Linked DNA regions of Homo sapiens: region 2 is linked to region 1. Evidence: fine-mapped expression QTL. Tissue or cell type: lung. Region 1 holds a variant in brackets; the other region holds the start of a gene. All regions are shown on one strand. Distances are from middle to middle.

The links. PIP is the estimated chance that this variant, and not a neighbour inherited with it, causes the effect.
Region 2: it holds the start of CATSPER2, and the variant in region 1 is fine-mapped to the expression of CATSPER2 in lung (TOPMed, PIP 0.92).

What each region holds. Positions count from the first base shown.
Region 1 is chr15:43,328,715-43,336,637 of GRCh38, forward strand. It overlaps LCMT2 (leucine carboxyl methyltransferase 2), which reads right to left and starts at 1,859. Exons shown (of 1, transcript NM_014793.5): 1 at 1-1,859. The coding sequence starts at 1,775. It overlaps MAPDA (N6-Methyl-AMP deaminase), which reads left to right and starts at 1,958. Exons shown (of 13, transcript NM_001324366.2): 1 at 1,958-2,145; 2 at 3,186-3,286; 3 at 4,597-4,720; 4 at 6,231-6,456; 5 at 6,982-7,112; 6 at 7,912-7,923. The coding sequence starts at 6,394. RefSeq lists enhancers at 1,767-2,717, 1,950-1,999. The variant T/G (reference allele first, on the strand shown) is at 2,485.
Region 2 is chr15:43,646,300-43,652,687 of GRCh38, forward strand. CATSPER2 (cation channel sperm associated 2) reads right to left here and starts at 2,545. Exons shown (of 13, transcript NM_172095.4): 1 at 2,330-2,545; 2 at 1,618-1,764; 3 at 995-1,168; 4 at 751-819. The coding sequence starts at 1,762. It also overlaps the pseudogene PPIP5K1P1-CATSPER2 and the pseudogene PDIA3P2.

The DNA.
Region 1 (7,923 bases):
TGAGCTGTGTGGGAGTACCTTGGGGTAATGGGAGGCTGGATGTCTACTGACTCCCAGAGGAATCCACAAGAGATTGGTCTCAGAAAGAGCACAGAGTTCAATGGCTCCTCAGAAGCCCCGAGACCTCCAGCAATAAGGGCTCCCCCTTGCCAAGTGCAGGCACTGTGAGAATGCCGGGCTTCAGGTACTTCTCCCTCCACTGGGATCCTGACCCAAGCCATTGTCCCTACATGGAGGAAATGCCAGTCACTTAGTACAGGTTCCACCACGCTTCGACCCCCATACACAAACAAATATTCCTGATTCTGACAGGACACTTCTGTTGTTGAATGCCGCCAACAACACAAAGTGGAATCATCCTTTCGGCCAGCCTTTGTTATTGTCACTTTCAGGTCCTCAGTGTTATTATCCTCACTCTTAAAAAAATGAAGCTGGAGAACCCCCAAGGCTGGACTTACTGGGGACAGTCTCCCTCCCAGAACCAGAACCCGACTCTCTGAGAGTCTTGTCATGGTGTGATAAAGGCGTCCATCCCACTGAACTCCAGTCCCACAACTGCCTATTTGGCTGCCTTTCCATTCAGAGTCACAATCTCTTGAGAGCAAGTGAAACTGGCTCACTCGGCAGTGCCGCCCCTCCTGCTCTCCAAATCCTCCTGCACTGAGAATAACGTCTGGGCTCAAGAAGACAGAGGCGTGGCCATATCTCTTCAGGTTTGGGACCTGGCCCTCGCTACTGACTACGCTGGCAGGGAATACCCCTGAAGGCGAAGCAGGATTTACGCGAGGAAATGCCTCTGAGGATGGAAACACTAGGGTGTGGGAGAGGGTGTCTCCCCTAGAAGCTGCCAGAATGAAATAATGGGCGCACTTCAGATGCCACTCCTCAAATTCGTCAAAGGGTTCAATATTTTCCACCCGCCGGCGTTCTTCTGCGGGAAGAAAGCAGTGATAGAATTCATTCATGTCCACGGCACCGCAGGCGGTCCAGCCAGCTTGAAGGAAGCGGCGCCGCTGCGCCTCCACGTCAGGAAAACGCTCCAGGCCATGCAGGGGGGAGTTTAGCTGCCGAAAATGTTGCAGCATGAACTGGCCAAAGGCGTCTTGAGGCCTCATCTGCTCATAGACCACGAAAAGGGCATTAGGAAAACGCTGGGCTGCCCAGGCGATGAGGGCCGCGGCACTCTCCGGCTCGAGGTAGGTCAGCACCGCCTCGGCCAGGAGCAGAGTGGGTGAGGCTGCGTCGAGCCCCGCGGCGCCCAGGGCCTCCTCCACTCGCTGGAGCTGCCGCAAGTCCAGACCCAGGATGCAGTAGTCTGCGCTCTCAAAGCACAGCGCGGACGCGGGCTCCCCCCTCTCGAAAGGCCCGGTTAACGCGCACAGCTCTGGCGTCTCTCCAATCCTTTCTGCTTTGCGCCGCGCCACGTCCGGAAAATCCACCTCCCAGACTGCAGCCCGGGCCAGGCGGCCCGCGGTTTTTAAGCGAAAATAGAGCGAGTCGAAGCCAGCGCCGAGAGACAAGATCTGCGCGCGAAGCGCGGCCTGGGGCGCGCCAATCTGCTCCAAAAAAGCGCGCACGCAGTGCCTCACGGCGCGTGCGCGGACGTAGTAGCCTCGGTGAATGAGCGGTGCGCGGCGCGCCGCGCCCGGAACCAGCAACGCGGCAAAGGGGTCCTGCACGTACCCGCGCGCGGCCAGGGAACGCTTGCTGAGGGCGCTGCTGTCGTTGGTGTTCTGTACCGCGCCTGCCCGACGCTCACGGCTCCGGGGGCCCATGGCCAGAAGAGACTCAGGAATGGCAGTCTGTCACGGTTGTGAGCCGCCCCTTGGTTAGCACACACCTCACGGACCTCGGTAGGGGGAAAAAAACCACCCATGCTCCTGGACTTCCCCTTCCGCCGGCACTTGTGCGTCACTTCCGGGAAGAGCGCATCTCGCCAACCAGAATTGAGGAGGGTGTAGCCAGTGCTAAGTTCGCTTGCGGCTGACCTTTCTTTGGAATGTCGTGAGTTCCATTTGTCCCAGAATACGGTCCGCTACCGCTGTGACATGAGTGTTAGGGAAGGCGGGTTGTCACGTTTCTACAAGCCTTCCAGTCAAAAGGGAAACCTTGCCTAAGTCCTTGTAGTTGAGAAATCTCTAAGAGGTGAGTCTGTGGGGACTGACGACTTGGCTTCCTTGGACCGCCAAGGAAGGGTCTGGTAGGAGCCAAGAAGGGTCGGCACCACGGACCTTCAGTAGGCAAGGATTAGTTAGCTTCCTTGGGTGCTAATAGTTGCTGATTTATTTAATGCTCTCACAGTTGCAAAAGAGAACCCCATTTAAAACTTGAAAACAAGTCACTAAGGCCAGGGTGCAAACTGAAGAAACCGACCTTTACAAATAATTTATAGACACCTAACAAGAAGACGTTTCCCCACAGATAGTAGACTGTTGATTCCCTTGTATTCCCAGCCCTATGTTAGACTGACGGTGAATAAACCAC[T/G]CAGCCTCTCTTTCTCATCACACCGCCTTGGAGAATTCTGTGGATTTTAAAGTAGTGTTGAATATGTCCCCAGAAAGGGGAGTCACTGAAGAGAGGTGATTGTTCCCTGTGATATGTTCTGAGCTTTGTTTTTAAGGAGTAAATCCAGGTTAGACTTCAGAATAATCATAAAGTTTCTAAATTGGGTGTCTGGGAGTCATCCATAGGAAACCACTTCCAGAGACATTTAGGAAATTTATCATTTGTTCACTGGGATTTGGTGACTGACTGGCTGAAATAGAAAAGGAAATCAGATAACTTTATGGTTAACTACAGGTGGTACTGCATAATGGTTAAGAGTGTGAGTTTTGGAGTCCAGCAGATTTGGATACTGGAGTCAAGAAAAAGTTTCGTATTTTCCAATGTTTTCTTGTGGAACAAAATGAAATAAGAAAGAAAAGGTTTGGATCAGGATAAAGATTCGGTAATTGAAAAGTGACATTTAGATTTGGTGTTTAAAAGCTCATTAATGGCCTTAGGGAGAGCAGTTTCTGTGGAGCAATAAGGGCAGAATCCATGTTTCAGTGAATAGGAGGTGAGTTAAAGGAGGTATCCAGTCTAAATTATTATACTTTCGAGGAGCTTAACTCAGAAGGAAAAAAGGGTCAGGGCAGTGGCTAAAGAATATTGTGGGATAAAAGAGTCTTTTGTTTTGTTTTCAGGTGGAAGCAAATACTGCACATGCGTGTTGGTCCTGTGAGGGAAACCAGCTAGTGGAGAGGGAGAGGTTGAAGGAACAGAAAAATGAGAAGACAACTCACTGGTAGAGTAACTTGGAATAGATAGAAATGGGATCCTGGGCACGTATTAGTTGTGGGGATAGGAGAATGAATCCTTTATCTGTGACTCCTGATGGGGTAAAAAAAAGATTATGGATAATCATAAGCTCAGGTGTGAGGTAGGGCAGAGAGAAAAAGAAGGAATTTGCACCTGATGGCTTCTGTTTTCTCTGTAAAGTTGGTGACAGAGTTGTCAGTTTAGTGTAAGGCATTCAGATCTGATGGAACATTTGAGCAGTTTGAGAATTGCTTCTGAAGGGATTAGAAGAAGGGCTCACCTATGCCTGCTGGGTCAGTGGATCCTCACCTCTAAAATGAGATTAAGTACTGCTTCGTGAGGTATCTCAGGGTTGATTGAGGGGCAAATAGAAAAAAAAAAAAAGTTGAAGGACTTTGAAAAATACGTAGCACCATAGAAACAAATTTATTTAATGACAGGTTCCTAAAATGTAGGTGTTATGTCAAAAATACTACTTGTTTTGCAAAGACCAGATCAAGAAAAGTAATTAAAGAAGAAAGAGAATGGAGTAAAATTTCTGATTTCGATGCCTTATGATTTAGGCCGGGGGAGGAGGGGCCATTGTTTAAATCTCAGTTTATTCTTATATAAAATGGGGATAATAATATCTCAGGGGTTGTTGTGAGGATTTAAACAAAATAACTATCTAAGACACCACAGTGCCTGGCTCATGGTAAGTGCATAATAAACAGTAACAAATTTTTTTTTATTCTGAGTTCCCTTTTGGGGGAGTAGGTGGGAGCATGAAAAAAGTTCCCTGGGAGACAGGATACTTGCTTCTGGCCCTGCTCTAATATTGATGAAGTATTACTAACGTGGATCTTATCCCAGTGTTTGTTGCCTTCCGTCCCAGAGCAAAACCAGTCCAGAAAAGTTAAATTTGTCATGGCATGCTGTTGTTGGTATCCATGTTTTAGGCAAGGAACAACAATTTTTTTTAATGTGTAAAGATTATGATTGCTTAGTTGCTTTTTAATTTCCATAGGTTAACATTGTAGCCAGTGGGTCAGTAAATTTACTCACAGCTAGTTAAAGGTCAGTCTGGAGGATGGTTTGAATGGGGCACAAATTAAGGTCAGGATCCTGGAGTAAAATTGAAAATCTGGCCGGGCGCAGTGGCTCGCTCCTGTAATCCCAGCTCAGGCTGGTGGATCACTTGAGCCCAGGAGTTTGAGACCAGCCTGGGCAACATGGTGAGACCCCGTCTCTACAAAAAAAATTTTATATAAAATTAGATGGGCATTGTGGTGCATGCCTGTGATCTCTGCTGCTTAGGAGGCTGAAGTGGGAGGATCGCTTGAGTCTGGAAGCTTGAGACTGCAGCAAGCTGTGATCGTGACACTGCACTCCAGCCTGGGCAACAAAGTAAGATCCTGTCTCAAAAGAAAAAAAAAAAAAGGTATGTTTTTCCATTTTAATTAAATCATTTATGTTTTTCGGTAGAGATATTAAATGCCATTGATTAAATAGTCCATCTTTTTCATTTTTTACTATTTATTAAGCACTTACTATGGCATTACTTTGAAATGCCATGTTTATCTCATACTAAGTAGGCCTTTCTATGGATTTCTATGGCTATGTTTAGTCCTATACAAACTACTTTCTTTATTGTACATTTTAATATCTTGGTAACTTATTTAACCCCACTCAGTATCAATTTATTGATTTTCAATACAGTAATATTTCACAAAGTTATTTCAAGGATTAAAGATAACATTATTAAAAGCGCTTGTCACATACCTGTTAGGTTCCAAATACATGGAAACTGTTATTCTTAAACATCATCCTCATTAATACGTGAGAACCCAGAGAGTCAAGGTGGCTAGTTTGAAAATCACTAAATTTCACTTGGAATTTTATCTTCACTTATAAACCACTTTCAGAAGTGAAGGGAAATTATGATTGATTTATCACCTACAGTGTGCTAGGCACTGTGCTAAGTGTTAGAGTGGTGGAATAATTCAAAGGACCTGTCCTCAAGGAACTTACAGTCTGGTGAGAGAGAAAGACAAGTATATCAGTGATTGAGATATCAGTGTGATTAAATGCTGAGTTAAAGGCAGTGACTGGCTCATGTGGGAACATAGATGAGGGGAATTTAAAATACTTTATTAATCGTCACTGCTACTTTGCATTTTTAATCCCATTTTTGTAAATAAAGAAACTGAAGCCATGAAGGTGAGTGACTAAGGCCACACAGCTTCTAACCTGTAGAGCTGGTAAAAGGACAAACCTAGGTCCATCTAATGCCAGCACCTCTGTTCTTCTTTTATATATTTTAAACAATTCAAAATTTAAAATTTTATTTTTGGCCGGGCATGGTGGCTCATGCCTGTAATCCTAGCACTTTGGGAGGCTGAGGCGGGTGGATCACTTGAGGTCAGGAGTTCGAGACCAGCCTGGCCAACATGGTGAGACCCTGTCTCTATTAAAAATACAAAAATTGGCCAGGTGTGGTGGCATGTACCTGTAATCCCAGCTACTTGGGAAGCTGAGGCAGGAGAATCACTTGAACCCAGGAGATAGAGGCTGCAGTGAGCTGAGACCATGCCAGTGTACTCCAGCCTGGGTGACAGAGGGAGACTGTCTCAAAAAAATTATATATATATATATATATATATATATATATTTTATCCAAAGTAGGCCTTATAAAATTTTGAATTTTTGAAGTCGTTGTATAGAAGGTGCCAATAGTTAAGGAATATACTCTACTAAATGTCAGGTTTTAGTACACCTCTTATAAGCTTGAGGTCTTTTCCTGTTTCCAGTTTATGTTGTTTACTAATCGTTTTCCCACCTTAGACACACTTAAGTTAGTTTTAGAGGAGCTTTTGCCTTTTAAAGAAAAAATTAACAAAATCCTGTTTCTTTGCTTTTACATCTGAAAATATTAACATTTGTTAAAATAGGTGAAGCTGAACCCAGATCTACACATACAGCTAATCTTACCAAAATGTGTGGAAGTAAAGCAATCTGAAGGAAATTCAGTACCATACAATTTACTGACTGAAATACATCATATTGCTCATACTAAGAATAAGAGTGGAGAAGAATCATTTTTTTCCTGCTAAAATGATAGAGGCAGAAGAGCAACAGCCTTGCAAGACAGACTTCTATTCTGAATTGCCAAAAGTGGTGAGAATTCAACTACAGAAATCTTGAGTGGTTGCTAATTATAATGACTTTGATGTTGCTTCTTTTCATCAAAGTAAATTTTGGCTGGGCGCAGTGGCTCATGCCTGAAATTCTGGCGCTTTGGGAGGCCAAGGCGGGTGGATTCACCTGAGGTCAGGAGTTTGAGACTAGACTGGCCAACATGGCAAAACCCCATCTCTACTAAAAATACAAAAATTCGCTGGGCTTGGTGGCATGCCTGTAGTCCCAGCTACTCAGGAGGCGGAGGCAGGAGAATCGCTTGAACCCAGGAATCGGAGGTTACAGTGAGCTGAGATCGCACCAGTGTACTCCAGCCTGGGTGACAGAGGGAGACTCCATCTCAAAAAAAGAAAAAGTAAATTTTGTAGGCAAAATTTGTAAACTTTATTATGTAGCTAAATCTAGTAAGCAGTTTGCCTATTGCAAACTACCAACATTAAGTACTTGGTAAGATGCTATGAATCTATTGGATATTTGATAAGTTTTACTGGTTGTATCTCTTAGGAACTTCATGCCCACTTGAATGGATCCATTAGTTCTCATACCATGAAGAAATTAATAGCCCAGAAGCCAGATCTTAAAATCCACGATCAGATGACTGTGATTGACAAGGGAAAGAAAAGAACTTTGGAAGAGTAAGTGTGGGGAGGTTGTGGACATACTCCTTTTTTTCTCTATCAGTATTTTGAGATTGTAAGTAGTATGTAAGAATTCAGATTTTGGTAAACAGAAATAGGGTTGGCATGTGGTGTGGAGCATATATCTTAACATACAACATTTTTTTCCAGCTGTTAGACTGTTGACAGTATTTCTAGTGATTTCTGTTGTTTGTGAAGTTATATTGGGATATTCTTTCTTTTCTTTTTTTGAGACAGGATCTCACTTTGTTGCCTAGACTGGAGTGCAGTGGCGTGACCACAGATCACTGCTGCCTTGACCTCTGGGGCTCAAGCAGTCCTCCTATCTTAGCATCCCAAGTAGCTGGGACCACAGGTGCACGCCACCATGACTGGCTAATGTTTTTTTAATTTTTTTAGAGATGGGGGTCTCCCTATGTTGCCCAGGCTGGTCTCAAACTCCTGGCCTCAAGCTATCCACTCGCCTTGGCTTCTTAAAGTTCTGGGATTACAGGCATGAGCCATTATACCCAGCATGTGATAGTCTTTAGATTTGAAAATATAGGCATATTGAATTTCCCCATGTCAGGTGTGGGTTGGAGAAGGGGTACTATTATTTCCCACTTAAAAATATCAGTAATGTTTTATTTTCTATCATTTGATTATCTTTCCAGATCAATGTAATTTTTGAAACATCTATTCTGTAGTTCTTTGTAAATATAAATATATATTTACTATTAGCCTAAAATTTAATTCATTCAGTTAGTGAGTTTCTTTGATGACTAGATTATGTTAAAACTTTTCATTCATGTTGCAGATGTTTCCAGAT
Region 2 (6,388 bases), 320 kb after region 1:
TTTTGAGATGGGGTGCAGTGGCGTGATTTCAGCTCACTGCAACCTCGGCTTCCCACGATCAAGCGTCCTCCTGCCTCAGCCTACTGAGTAGCTGGGATTACAGGTGCCCACCACCACGCCCAGCTAATTTTTTCTATTTTTAGTACAGATGGGGTTTCAACATGTTGGCTAGGCTGGTCTTGAATTCCTGACCTCAAGTGATTCAACCACCTCGGCCTCCCAAAGTGCTGAGATTACAGGTGTGAGCTACCGTGCCCAGCGAATATTTCTAGATTTTAGCAGTTGCATAAATTCTACTCCAGGAGGCTTAATATAATTGTCCTTAATATAAATGTCACATTTCAAATGACATTCAAAAATGTAAAATGATCAATTTAGAAAAAAAAATTACTCCTACCCACTTCCTCTTTTTCTTTTTCTTTTTTTTTTTTTTGAGACAGAGTTGTACTCTGTCGCCCAGGCTGAAATGCAGTGGCACAATCTCGGCTCACTGAAACCTACGCCTCCTGGGTTTAAGCGATTCTCCTGCCTCAGCCTCCCAAGTAGCTGGGACTACAAGCGCGTGCTACCAAGCCCGGCTAATTTTTTGTATTTTTTAGTAGAGACAGGGTTTCACCATGTTGCCCAGGCTGGTCTCCAACTCCTGAGCTCCGGCAATCCACACGCCCCGGCCTCCCAAAGTGCTAGGATTACACGTGTGAGCCGGCGTGCCCGGCCTCACTTCCTCTTTCATACAAGGTCAGTTCTCACCTATTTCAACCATCAATATGATCGTATTCAAAAAGACCAGGAAGATGATGAAGTTTTTGAAGAGAGGACCTGTTGTCTCTTAAGGAAATGTACAGAGTGGAGTTCTTTCTGATTTATGCAGCTGAAATAATAAGAGCAATAACATAAGCAGTGAAAATGAGACAGTGGAGTATGGGGAGCAAAAAATAAGTCATTAGGCAGATGATCAACAGCCAGGATAAAAATGAGTGACATGAAAGGATACACTCAAGGACCCATCCGGCCCACAAAGAAAGAGGTGGCCTCTGACTGCAGCGCACATGAAGCCTGCTCAACAGCCTCTGGGCATGTGAAATCTGTTCTATACGCTGAGGCTTTATAGAGAAACGCACTAGCTGGTGTTGATCTCCCAATACAAGTTTCTTCTGGCGGGAAGGATCTACAACAAAAATTAAAAAGGGATAGTGGATAAATACAAACAAAATAGACCAGGTAGGGTTGGGGGCAGGGATACTGGTCAGGTAATGGGTTCCCCTAATGCCTTACTGCTAGTCCTTCTCTTCTCACAGCAACTAAGAATTCTGTTTGGAGTGAGAGCAAATGTATTGCTTATGACCAACACTGTCCATGCCCACAAAAGCAGCAGGCTCACTCTCAAAGTTTTAAGAGTCTTTGACAGAAACTCTTCCCAATCATCCATGGCTAGTGGCTATCCTAGGCCTAAAAGTGAAAGACGTGGATTCTATCTCTTCAGTTTTATTTACAAGCCCTTGATTTATCAAGTTTGGTAAACCAGCAACTAAACCTCCCCAGAATTTTCCACTCTTAAATGTAGAGGATGTGGATAGGAGTCTTAAATTTAAATTAGTGAAGAAATAGGCTGCTGACCAAGTAACTCCCTGATAGTGTGCCGCGGCACAGCTTGGCTCAAGCCTTGCAAATGCTCAATGAGAGAGAAAGTATCGATGAGACGTGAACGAATGGCATCAGCTCGGGGAAGCTGCATCTGCTCTTCTTGTTGGTAAGCGGCCATGTCTGCTAAGAAAATGTAAGCATCAAGTGTCATTTCATTCTTGGAGCTGCACCAAGGATTACAGGTTTTCTGTCCCCTCCTCCCCACCCTCTTTACCCTTAAGATTCCTTAATGTACCCACATCTACGAACTAGGAGCAGTTGGGAAGAACAAACATTCTACTAGGACTCAGGGTGTTTTGAAACAAAAGGGGCTAAGTGGTAAAGACATTGCACAGTCGACCAAGCGGCCAGGCATCTTCACTTTGTGATGGCATTTCTAATTAAAACTCATTAAAAACAAAACAAAACAAACAAAAACACCGCAAGAAAAAGGAGCAGCCACAAGGGCAGGGGCCCGGGGCTGGACAAAGAATCTGGGTCCCACCTGTGCCTGAGACAATCGGGCAATGAGGTGGAGTTGGGGGAGGTCTTGGCCTGCTCACGCAAGAGAAACCAAGTGCAGAGAAATTGGACAAAATGCCAAAGCCTGACATTTTGAAAATGGGTCCCGTCCCAAGTGTGTCCACTCCAACACTCCTTCGGGGGCTAGCTCCTTCTCTCCTCCATTCTCGCTTCTGGGCCTCACCTCAGCCCAGGTTCTCTTTGCCCACTCAGTCCTTATTTCACGCTTCCGCCTCCAGCTCAGGTGCCCCGAGCCTGGCTACCCCTATGCAAGACGAGCTCAGGGCCGGCTCCCAGCCTCACTGCGCCCCATTCCCCGCCCCGCTCGACCCCCAGGTTTCGGCTCACCCCGGGACCCGGCCCTAGCCCCTACCCACAGCCCAGGACCATGCGGAGCAACGCTCGCCCAGCCACTCGCCGCCTAGGCCCCGCCCCGCCCCGCTCTCCGGCCACTCAGCGGTAACCAGCTGGTCCCGCCCGCCGGACGAAGGCGACGCGCAGCCAATCAGCGGCTGCCACACAGCGGCCCGAGCCGGGTTTGGGGGTTGGGACCTCCGGCTGCAGGTCCCCTGGGCCAGACGCGCCAGCGCAGGCAGCCGGTTTGTGGTCGCGCGCCCGACCTCCGCAGTCCCAGCCGAGCCGCGACCCTTCCGGCCGTCCCCACCCCACCTCGCCGCCATGCGCCTCCGCCGCCTAGCGCTGTTCCCGGGTGTGGCGCTGCTTCTTGCCGCGGCCCGCCTCGCCGCTGCCTCCGAACTCACGGACGACAACTTCGAGAGTCGCATCTCCTACACGGGATCTGCGGGCCTCATGCTCGTCGGGTTTTTCGCCCCCTGATGACGCCACTCTGCCAAGGCGGGGGAAGAAGGGCCGGGCTGGGCCGGGGCCGGGGGCGAGGGCGCGGGGAACTGTTGGGCCTACGCAGCGCCGGCGCCCTTCATTCCTGTGGGCCCCTGCTGTGGCGGGCACATTTCTCATTCCCGGGAGCTGGAGGTGCCTCGCCGAGAGCGGTGGAGTCGGTGCTGATCGGCCCAAGGAAAACCCGAAGGCTGCGCTCACGCAGGGCCTCATCCTTATCTCGGTGCTCTTGTGGCACTTCCTATTTGCAGAGGGTTTTGCCACCCCTTCCCCCAGTTCAATATGTAGCTATATTGTTTCTGCATGAGTCAGTATTAATGTTACTCCAGTCTACAGACTAGACATCCCAAAGCCTTGTAGTGGAAGCGGACGTTTCACCAAATGCAGAAGTCCTGGATCCCTAGGGTATTTCCTTTCATCTTACCTCACGCCGCACAGCCATTGGTTTCTAGCCAAGGTCACTGAGTGGCTGCAGAATGGTCCTAAGTGCTTTCTTGAGGCAGGCAATTTGTCCGTCACATGGTGTACAGTTTCTCCCTTCAGCTGATCACTTACATCTCAGTACCGGCAGATACCTCTGTCCAAACGAAAAGAGTACCTGAACAAGAATAATTCCATCATAATCTGTCCATATTGTCCATTTTAATTAGGATTTCTTTAAAATGTCAATACTCCGAATAGGAACAGCTCCAGTCGACAGCTCCCAGCATGAGTGACGCAGAAGACGGGTGATTTCTGCATTTCCATCTGAGGTACCCGGTTCATCTCAATAGGGAGTGCCAGACAGTGGGCGCAGGTCAGTGGGTGCGCGCACTGTGCACGAGCCGAAGCAGGGCGAGGCATTGCCTCACTCGGGAAGCGCAAGGGGTCAGGGAGTTCCCTTTCCTAGTCAAAGAAAGTGGTGACAGACAGCACCTGGAAAATCGGGTCACTCCCACCCGAAAACTTCGCTTTTCCGACGGGCTTAAAAAACAGCGCACCAGGAGATTATATCCCGCACCTGGCTCGGAGGGTCCTACACCCACGGAGTCTCGCTGATTGCTAGCACAGCAGTCTGAGATCAAACTGCAAGGCGGCAGCGAGGCTGGGGGAGGGGTGCCTGCCATTGCCCAGGCTTGCTTAGGTAAACAAAGCAGCCGGGAAGCTCGAACTGGGTGGAGCCCACCACAGCTCAAGGAGGCCTGCCTGCCTCTGTAGGCTCCACCTCTGGGGGCAGGGCACAGACAAACAAAAAGACAGCAGTAACCTCTGCAGACTTAAATGTCCCTGTCTGACAGCTTTGAAGAGAGCAGTGGTTCTCCTAGCACGCAGCTGGAGATCTGAGAACGGCCAGACTGCCTCCTCAAGTGGGTCCCTGACCCCTGACCCCCAAGCAGCCTAACTGGGAGGCAACCCCCAGCAGGGGCAGACTGACACCTCACACGGCCAGGTACTCCAACAGACCTGCAGCTGAGGGTCCTGTCTGTTAGAAGGAAAACTAACAAACAGAAAGGACGTCCACACCAAAAACCCATCTGTACATCACCATCATCGAAAACCAAAAGTAGATAGAACCACAAAGATGGGGAAAAAACAGAGCAGAAAAACTGCAAACTCTAAAAAGCAGAGCACCTCTCCTCCTCCAAAGGAACACAGTTCCTCACCAGCAACGGAACAAAGCTGGACGGAGAATGACTTTGACGAGCTGAGAGAAGAAGGCTTCAGACGATCAAATTACTCTGAGCTACGGGAGGACATTCAAACCAAAGGCAAAGAAGTTGAAAACTTTGAAAAAAATTTAGAAGAATGTATAACTACAATAACCAATACAGAGAAGTGCTTAAAGGAGCTGATGGAGCTGAAAGCCAAGGCTCAAGAACTACGTGAAGAATGCAGAAGCCTCAGGAGCCGATGCAATCAACTGGAAGAAAGGGTATCAGCGATGGAAGATGAAATGAATGAAATGAAGCGAGAAGGGAAGTTTAGAGAAAAAAGAATAAAAAGAAATGAGCAAAGCCTCCAAGAAATATGGGACTATGTGAAAAGACCAAATCTACGTCTGACTGGTGTACCTGAAAGTGATGGGGAGAATGGAACCAAGTTGGAAAACACTCTACAGGATATTATCCAGGAGAACTTCCCCAATCTAGCAAGGCAGGCCAACATTCAGATTCAGGAAATACAGAGAATGCCACAAAGATACTCCTCGAGAAGAGCAACACCAAGACACATAATTGTCAGATTCACCAAAGTTGAAATGAAGGAAAAAATGTTAAGGGCAGCCAGAGAGAAAGGTGGGTTACCCTGAAAGGGAAGCCCATCAGGCTAACAGCAGATCTCTCGGCATAAACTCTACAAGCCAGAAGAGAGTGGGGGCCAATATTCAACATTCTTAAAGAAAAGAATTTTCAACCCAGAATTTCATATCCAGCCAAATTAAGCTTCATAAGTGAAGGAGAAATAAAATACTTTACAGACAAGCAAATGCTGAGAGATTTTGTCACCACCAGGCCTGCCCTAAAAGAGCTCCTGAAGGAAGCACTAAACATGGACAGGAACAAACGGTACCAGCCGCTGCAAAATCATGCCAAAATGTAAAGACCATCGAGACTAGGAAGAAACTGCATCAACTAATGAGCAAAATAACCAGCTAACATCATAATGACAGGATCAAATTCACACATAACAATATTAACTTTAAATGTAAATGGACTAAATGCTCCAATTAAAAGACACAGACTGGCAAATTGGATAAAGAGTCAAGACCCATCAGTGTGCTGTATTCAGGAAACCCATCTCACGTGCAGAGACACACATAGGCTCAAAATAAAAGGATGGAGGAAGATCTACCAAGCAAATGGAAAACAAAAAAAGGCAGGGGTTGCAATCCTAGTCTCTGATAAAACAGACTTTAAACCAACAAAGATCAAAAGAGACGAAGGCCATTACTTAATGATCAATTAAGTAATTAAGGCCTTGTTGATCAATTCAACAAGAAGAGCTAACTATCCTAAATATATATGCACCCAATACAGGAGCACCCAGATTCATAAAGCAAGTCCTGAGTGACCTACAAAGAGACTTAGACTCCCACACATTAATAATGGGAGACTTTAACACCCCACTGTCAACATTAGACAGATCAACGAGACAGAAAGTCAACAAGAATACCCAGGAATTGAACTCAGCTCTCCACCAAGCGGACCTAATAGACATCTACAGAACTCTCCACCCCAAATCAACAGAATATACGTTTTTTTCAGCACCACACCACACCTATTCCAAAATTGGCCACATAGTTGGAAGTAAAGCTCTCCTCAGCAAATGTAAAAGAACAGAAATTATAACAAACTATCTCTCAGACCACAGTGCAATCAAACTAGAACTCAGGATTAAGAATCTCACT